2 linked regions of the Homo sapiens genome follow. Changing the gene in region 1 together with any one later gene gives a genetic interaction. Each region holds a gene or a part of one and is shown on either strand. Other genes may lie near its edges. The genes, in order: ZNF236 and ARID1A.

Evidence for each region.
Region 2: changes in ZNF236 (region 1) and ARID1A together harm fitness more than expected from each alone (negative genetic interaction), as found in Homo sapiens cells (one large-scale study listed by BioGRID).

What each region holds. Positions count from the first base shown.
Region 1 is NC_000018.10:76,821,190-76,825,551, forward strand, and holds the start of ZNF236 (zinc finger protein 236), read left to right. Parts: upstream 1-1,367; 5' UTR 1,368-1,418; coding exon 1,419-1,473; intron 1,474-1,929; exon of another isoform or gene 1,930-2,160; intron 2,161-2,570; exon of another isoform or gene 2,571-3,168; coding exon of another isoform or gene 3,169-3,217; intron 3,218-4,362.
Region 2 is NC_000001.11:26,702,448-26,706,254, forward strand, and holds part of ARID1A (AT-rich interactive domain-containing protein 1A), read left to right. Parts: intron 1-3,807. UniProt on the Homo sapiens protein: Involved in transcriptional activation and repression of select genes by chromatin remodeling (alteration of DNA-nucleosome topology).

The sequences.
Region 1 (4,362 bases):
CCTAGACACCGCTCAGCAATAAAAAGCACTTAAAATATTTATCAATATATAGATGAATTCCAACATAATTATGCTCAATGAACAGCCCCCACTTCCCTAAAGATTACGTGCGATACAATTCCATTTATATAAAACACCAAGAAAAACAGGTTGGGCACAGTGGCTCACATCTGCAATCCCAACACTTTGGGAGGCTGAGGCAGAGGGTCAATTGAAGCTAGGAGTTCCAGAGCAGGCTGGGCAACACAGAGAGACCCCATATGTTTAAAAAAAAACAAAAAGCTAGACATGGCGGTCCTCACCTGCAGTCTCAGCTACTCGGGAGGCTGAAGCAGTTGGATTGCTTAAGGGCAGGAGTTTGAGGCTACAGTGGGTCCCGATCGTGTCACTGCACTCCCGCCTGGGTGACAGAGCAAGCGAGACCCAGTCTGTATAAAAAGATATTTAAAAACTCCAGGAAATTCAAACTATAGTGACAAAAAGCAGATGGGTGGGAGGGGGAGGAGGGAAGGAGGGAGAGAGGAAAGGGTTACAGAGAGACGGGAGGAACATCTTCACTGTTGATTGTGATGATGGTTTCACAGTGTATACATGTGTCAAGATGTATCAAACTGCACACTTTAATTTGCGCCACTGCACTCCAGCCCAGGTGACAGAGTAAGGTCGCTTTCCCCGGGCTCGGCCGGCCTCTCCACCCGGCGCTCGGGTGCTGCGCTGCCTGTTCCTGTTGCCACTTCGTGTAAGTTAGCGCAGGCAACAACACACAAGACCAGCACACGTGAAATGGTCCATTTTAATGCACTGCCCCCAGGGAAAGGAACATTACCGGCTTCTGGCCATGTCGTCTTCCCAGTCCCAGATGGCGGTTCCGGGTTTGGGCTCCGAGGCCCTTCGCAGCACTAGGGCGGCGCGAGTAGGGCCGCCCTCCGAGCCATGCTGCGGTCCGAGGTGACGCGCGCACGCGAGTTCGCGGACACGCACGAGACGCCCGGGCCACGGAGGCGCGGGGCTGGCCCAGGGTCCCCGCCAGGCCGAGCTCTAGGGCTGCCGGCCCGGCCCGGTGACCCCCGCGCTCCCCTCCGTCCGCTAAGGCCCCGCGGCGCCGCGCATGCGCCCCGCCGCCGCCCCCGCCCCCACCGCGCCCGCGCCCGCGCCCAACGCCCCCACCGCGGCCCGCGGGCCATGGAACCTGCCAAGGCCGGCGCGGTTCGAGCGCTCCGGTGCGCGCGTTCAGGCGCCTTTCCCCCGTGAGCCCGGCGGCGCTCGGACCGGGCCGCCCGCCGCCGGGCAGCTCCGCCCGCCTCTAGCGCCGGCTGGGCGCGCCCCCGCCCCGGTGCCCGCGCGTGCGCGCCCCCGCCGCCGCGTGTGAGTGTGAGTGTGAGTGTGAGTGGGTGTGGGTGCGAGCCGGGCCGCCGACGATGCCGCGGGGCCGCCCCCCGAAGCCCAGGGAGAGCAAGGCGCGCGGCGACTCCGGTAAGGCCCGCGGCCGCGCCCTCGCGCCCCGCCGGCGGCCGGTGCGGGGCCCGCGCCCTGCCAGTCCCCGGATGCGGCGCGGGGGGCGCCGGGAGCGGCGGGGCGGGGGCGGGGGCCGCGCAGACCCGGGCCGCCGCCGCCGCCGACTGGCCGGGCGGGCCGCAGCGCGGGCGGAATGATACGGGCGAGTCGCCGCCCGGCCCCTCCGCGCGCTGGGCCTACTTTCCTGGGCCGGGCGGCGGCTGAGGCGGGAGGCGGGAGGCGGGTGAGGGAGCAGGCGGCCGCCTCCTGCGCGCGCCCTGCCCCCGCTGGCCCTGCCGCGGCCCGCGCTGAACTTGAGGGAAAGTGGCCGCCCCGTGTTCCGTCCCGGGGCCGGAGGGCCGCGGGGCGCGCTGGGGAGGCGGCCTGGCCAGAGCCCGGGCCTGCGGATACCGCGCCCCGGGCTCCTCCCGGACGGCGCCCCCGCCCGACCCTGCGCGGCGCCGGCTGCCCCGGGGACGTTGGGCTCGGCCCACAGGGAGGCCGTGGAGCGCGGGGTCGTGCACACAGTAGGCGCCAGCGTTGTCCGGGAAGCGCAGGGTCGTGCACACAGTGTGCTCCAGTGTTATCTGGGGCGCGCTGTGGGGCGTGCATACAGTAGGCGCCATTGTGATCCGGGAACTTGAACCCTGAGCCTCTGCAGACGCTGTGGGTAGTGCATACAGTAGGCGCCATTGTGATCCGGGGGGCTGGAACCCTGGGCATCTGGAGAGCGCTGTGGGTCGTGCAAACAGTAGGCACCATTGTGATCCGGGTAGCTTGAACCTGGAGCTTCTGGAGAGCGCTGTGGGTCGTGCATACAGTAGGCATCAGTGTTATGTGGGGAGCGCTAGATCGTGCACACAGTAGGCGTCAGGAAGTGTTTTCCCCAGTAATTTATTCTCCATGGTACTTTGCTAAAGTCATGAAATAACTCAGATTTTGTTTTCCAAGGAAGGAGAAAGGCCCAGAATTTAAGAGCAGGCAGACACACAACCGGGCACCCCCAGACCCTGGCCCTTCCAGCAGTCAGGAATTGACTTGCCTTCCAAAGCCCCAGCCCGGAGCTTGAGGAACGGACTTTCCTGCGCAGGGGGATCGGGGCGCACTCGCCGGTGCCGCGGTTCCCAGGTCGAGGGCAGTGGGGTAGGGGGCGCCGCGCTTTTTCTCGCGGGCGCCGTGGTTCCCGTGCGGCCTTGGACGCGAGTCTCCCCCTGCAGGCCTGGTCCCTGGTCCTGGTCACCCGTGCAACTGGAGCGGCGCTCCGCGTTTGGAAAGGGTTTTGAAGGGGGTTCTAAGGGGGAGTGGGCGCCTAGGACTCCCTATGGGAGTCGGTGGGTTATACCTTGACTGCCGTTGATTTTTATTTAACTGTTTAGCTTAGTGACTCAAGTGTTCCCCTTTTCTTGGGGATGAGTAAACTGAGGCTCATTAAAGAGCTTGTGACCAAACAACACAGGTGCCCCAGAGAAAGGTCGGGCCTGGAAACTACAAAGGATTGTGTTAATTTTGTGTTTAGGAAGAAAGAGGTAATGGGTAGGAATCAATGTAAACTTATTCATAGGCCACACCAAACCAGGAATTCTTGTCGTGATTGCACTTGGTAGAGTTAACACACGTGCACATTACGGAAACGTTGGTGACCAACAGGCGTTTCAGCGAGCTTTCGCACACCTCATGGGCCTTTGTGGGCTGCTGGAGAGATGTTGGCTGCACCATGACCCAGGTATGCAGATTTGTAGTTGGATAACAGCAGTGCTCAGAATTTTGATTAATGGTTGATGGTGTCTGGCCTTTAAGGAAGTCTTTGTTGCCTCTCCCGCTTTTGAGTTTTGGCCTTGACCTTATTTCGTTAGTTTAATTGTTTTGTTAGTATGCCATCTGCCAAAAATAATGTAAGGTGCAGTGTCTCAGTTACTTGGAAGAAGGCTTAGGATAGAGAAAGAATGTAAAATTTCCACGGCCACAGGCGGGGCACCCATTCCCCCAGTATCCCCATCTCACCGATGGTATCCCTGTCCACCTGGTGTTTCACCCTCAGGCCTCAAGAATTATTCTATTTCTTTTATCCCCCAACACACTTCCTAATTTAGTGTTGCAGCTTCTACCTCGGGAATGTATTTCCAGTGGGCCCTCCTCTTTCCATCTCCAGAGATACCCTCTGACCCAGCCTCCCTCTCCGGGCTGGAGAGCTGCAGGAGCCCCCTTCCTGGGCCCTGCTAGTCCTGGGCTCCTGTAAATAAATCTGTCACTTGTCAGCGTGGATGAACTTGTTAAATGTAAATCAGATGGCTACACCCTGATTAAAAGCGTGCATTGGCTTCCTCATCCCTTTAACAGAAACCCATTCCTCCAGGATCCTGTTGATCGGGCCTTGTCTGACTCTTCTCTCTTTCCTTGCTCTGGCATGCAGTCTTTTGTGTTCCTTGATGCCACATTAGTTTTTGTCTTAGGGCATTTGCCATTTCCTAGTCTGAGAAGCACTTTTTGCTAGTCTTGTGGCTCCAAGTGATTTAGCGTCTTCAGAGAGGCCTTCCTCAAACCTGCTTAAAAGTTACCTTTCCCTTCTGAACACCAGTCCTCCTGTAGCAAAGTGGTTCTCAAACTGTGGTTCCTGGACCCCTGGGGGTTCCCTGAGATGTTTTCAGGCTTCTGTAAGGTAAATATCATAGACTAAGACTGTTAGGCTTTTTCACTCTGTTAATTTTTGCACTAATTGTACAAAAGCAGTTGTTGGCACAACTGCTGACATCTTAGCACGAATCTAGGTGGTGGTGGCGGTGCCTAAGAGTGAGGCTGTATTACCTTCATGTATCACAGTCAAGAAGAACAGGTTGCACCAGAGAAAATGCAGAATAGATATGACAATCC
Region 2 (3,807 bases), on another chromosome or scaffold:
TTTGATAATTCTGTGCTTGACACAGCATCTTCTATCGTCTCTGAAGGAACCAAATGTTTCAGAGCTTTGTGTAAATACTTGCTGAGCTGTCAATATGTACCCAGGAGGTTTCTGTAGTAAGATGTAAACTGTTCTATAGAATGTTTGACAGGCAAATTAATAAACAGTTTTCAAGCAAAGATAATGCTAGCCTCCTCATGTGGTGGAGTAAAATAACATTGGGGAAAAAGACTTGGGGATAGGAAAAGGGTAGTGCTGGGGGGCAGTGAGTGTGGAGATAAGAAGTGATCTAAAAAAAAATTGAAATGGAAAGATGCTGCCCTGGTAGTGAAACCTCTGTGGCCCTGGCTGCGTGCTAAGTTCAGGGCATGTGGTATCCTGTTAAAGTCAATTGCAGTTTCATAGTGAAAATAGAAGTTTGGAAAGAAGATCCTGACTGTCAATAGTAAGGTAAGTATTACCCCAGACACTTGGCTTATGAGACTTTGAGGTTTAAAGGGTAGCTTGGTGAGATTATTTTTGGCTTGGGTTTGCATTTCTGGAATATTAGAAAGGAGAAAAAAGATACTGCAACTTGAGTGTGATCTTTATCCTCAATTTTGCTGTTGTGCTGGGGATTATAAGTCCACTACCCAATGGCCTGGGTTTATTTATACAGTTTTTACTGGACTTCTGTGTATCACTTATGATAAAATTAATATGCCTTTACACTCTGTTCCTGGGTCAGTACAAAGTCCAAATATTTGGGGACTCACTACATCTTACTTGAAGGATTATGTGAGTAGATACAGTCTTTGTTTTTGAAATTGCCATTTTAGGATTAAAAACATATCTGGGTTCCTTCAGTGACACATTCTTTTTATGGAAGAAGAAGAAGAATCTATGAATATTTTAGCTGTCTGTCTGTGGTCCTCTTCTTTGGTAGCCTTGTGAGATGACCAGATTTGCCTTCTCAGAATGTCTTTTTTAACTAGATTCATTGATTCTGACACCAGTTTTCTTTATAAGAAGTGTTTTTTACACCAGAGTCCTGGAAGTGCCCTTTTGACTTAGCTGTTTATATAGTAGCAGGGAATATGAATGTAATTATGGTCCTGACTATGATTTTTAGGTTCAGCTAACTTACTACCAAAGGCTATCAGCTTGTTTTAATACAAAACACAAAAACTTGGATTGGCACTGACATAGGTTGCTTAATATTGCATGGTCCTTTCCCAGTATGTTGGTAGTGAGGGTATTAGGAACTTCAGACTTATTGCTGAGAGCATAGTTTCTAAGTCAGAGAGATCAGGAAATTCCAATGGGGATGGGAAATAGCCCTATGTGATTACACCAGCTAGGTACTAGGAAGAGATTTAAAAGGTAGAAACAATATCTCCTTCAGAGGCATTTAGTTTTCTTAGGAAAGCATGCTTATGTGCACACATCTGGAAAACTTGAAAAGCAAGGTTTCATAAATGGATGTAGACCACACTAATTATGTGAGCTGAAGGAATTAGAGGAAAAGGTTCAATCAGTTTGGCAGGGTTAACCTGGGACAGCTTTTCAGAGGCTTTTTTTGTGAAGCTAAATGTTCAAGAAACTTAGAATACTAATTTGCCTTTTCATAATGCTATTCTTAAGTTCCATGGGCTTGATAGAATCCACATTGCACATCCATCTCCAGACCAGTAGCTGTCTCAGTGTTCCAATGACTTTGAGAATTTGGACTCTAACCATAAAACTCCCTGAAAGAGTGGTTCCAGGGTCTTAGTGGTTCTTGTGGTCAGGTAGAGCCTTTGGTACAGACTGTTAAGTTCTTGGCTAGTTCAGGGGCACTTTTCTAGTAAATTTGGATTTGGAAGGTCATGTCACCTTCAGAGTTGTGTGCCCTGGACAGCTCTGTAGTAATGGTGGTTCAACTTTGTTGGTGAGTCTGTCTTGGCAGAGTTAGTTGACCTTTCTTAAAACAAGAGCCACGAAGTAAGTATCTGTTGGGACTCTTAGGCTGCTATTTCTGAGGAGCTGGGAGCTGTGTTCAAGTCAAGTTGCTTGTGTTAGACCTTATATTGAGGTTGATGGGTTAGGTAAGCCTGCACATATGCAGTCTGCCCATTTATTCATAGAAATGGCCTTTAATACTGTTTTTGGCCGGGCGCGGTAGCTCACACCTATAATCCCAGCACTTTGGGAGGCCAAGGTGGGAGGATTGCCCAAGCCCAGGACCAGCCTTGGGACCAGGCTATTAACATAGGGAGACCCCATCTTTACAAGACACAAAAATTGCTGGATGTGGTGGTACGTGCCTGTAGTCGCAGTTTACTTAGAAAGCTGAGGCAGGAGGATTGCTTGAGCCCAGGAGGTTGAGGCTGTTGTAAGCCATGATTACGCCAGTGCACTCCAGCCTGGGCAATGGAGCCAAGACCTTGTCTCAAAAAAAAAAAAAAAATTTGTTTTTTATTAGGTTACTATGGCCAAGCAGCTAACAAATGCTGCTCACCAATGCTTAATCCTTGTGGAGCCTCTGGAATATAGTGATTTTGGTTTCTTTACCTGCTGGTCGATCTGTGGTTGGGCCTTGGCACTTCACCGGTCAAGGATCATCAGTGGATGCTTAACAGCTGAAGATGCATGGCATGTCCAGTGCCAGGCCACTGTAATGCTTCTACCTGGAGAAGGATTGGTTACACTGCTCCAGTACAGAAGTACTGCAGACCTTTTTTTTTTTTTGAGATGGAGTCTTACTTTGTCACCCAGACTGGAGTACAGTGGTGCAATCTGGCTCATTGCAACCTCTGCCTCCCAGGTTCAAGCGATTCTCATGCCTCAGCCTCCTGAGTAGCTGGGATTATAGGCTTCCACCACCATGCCCGGCTAATTTTTGTATTTTTAGTAGAGGTGGGGTTTCATCATGTTGGCCAGGCTGGTCTTGAACTCCCAACCTCGGGTGTGATCCACCCACCTTGGCCTTCCAAAGTGCTGGAATTACAGGTGTGAGCCACCACGCCCAGCCTTTTTTTTTTTTCCCCCCCCCTCAAGTAATGGTCCATGACCTGCTGAAAGTACTGGAGTCTTGGATAAACATTCTGGTTTAGAAATACCTTTTCCACTTTTTTTGCCTTGCCATTTTGGCATTTTGCAAAAGTGGGTTTTCAGTTACTCAGAATTGGGCACCATAGTTAACCTCCTATGGATTACAGGTGTTTAGGGGCTTGAACTCTGATCATTCCCAGGTTTTAGAGGAATCCAAGTTCGGGTGAATATTGACTTAGTAGCCTTGAGTATTCTTCCTGAAATTACCCCTCCTCTCCATTTAAATGGATGAAATTAGTTTTTTACTGAATGTGAAGGGACATCTGAATGAACTTCTGTTTGTTTTTGTTAGTCACTTGTGCATAGCTGGAATATTATCTTGGGACAGGTTGAGTCTATTTCCCAGTGGCTTCTGCATTTTCTAAGGGTGGACTGGAATGGGAAGAAGTCTAATGCCAAGAATGCATTCCAACATGCTGCAGAGTAGGAAATTTGATCCCTAAAATGTTGACTTAGTGTTGGTCATGGTACATATTAGAAATCACCCAGTAATCCAGGACAGATTTTTGTCACCCTCCAGGAAGTTATGTTGATATAAATACTAAGGGGCTTTGGGTACTGAGCTAAGTGCTCTGCAGGCCCAAAGCGCTGCTTGAATTGCTACCCATATGAAGAGGAAATGTGCCATGTGCCTTTTTTTCTCTCTTTTGCATTTGGGCTTCCTTATGGCTTTGTTGCTTTTATGTTCCCAAGTCTGCAAAGTTAGATATTAGACTTCCTCCTCCCTTGGCACTG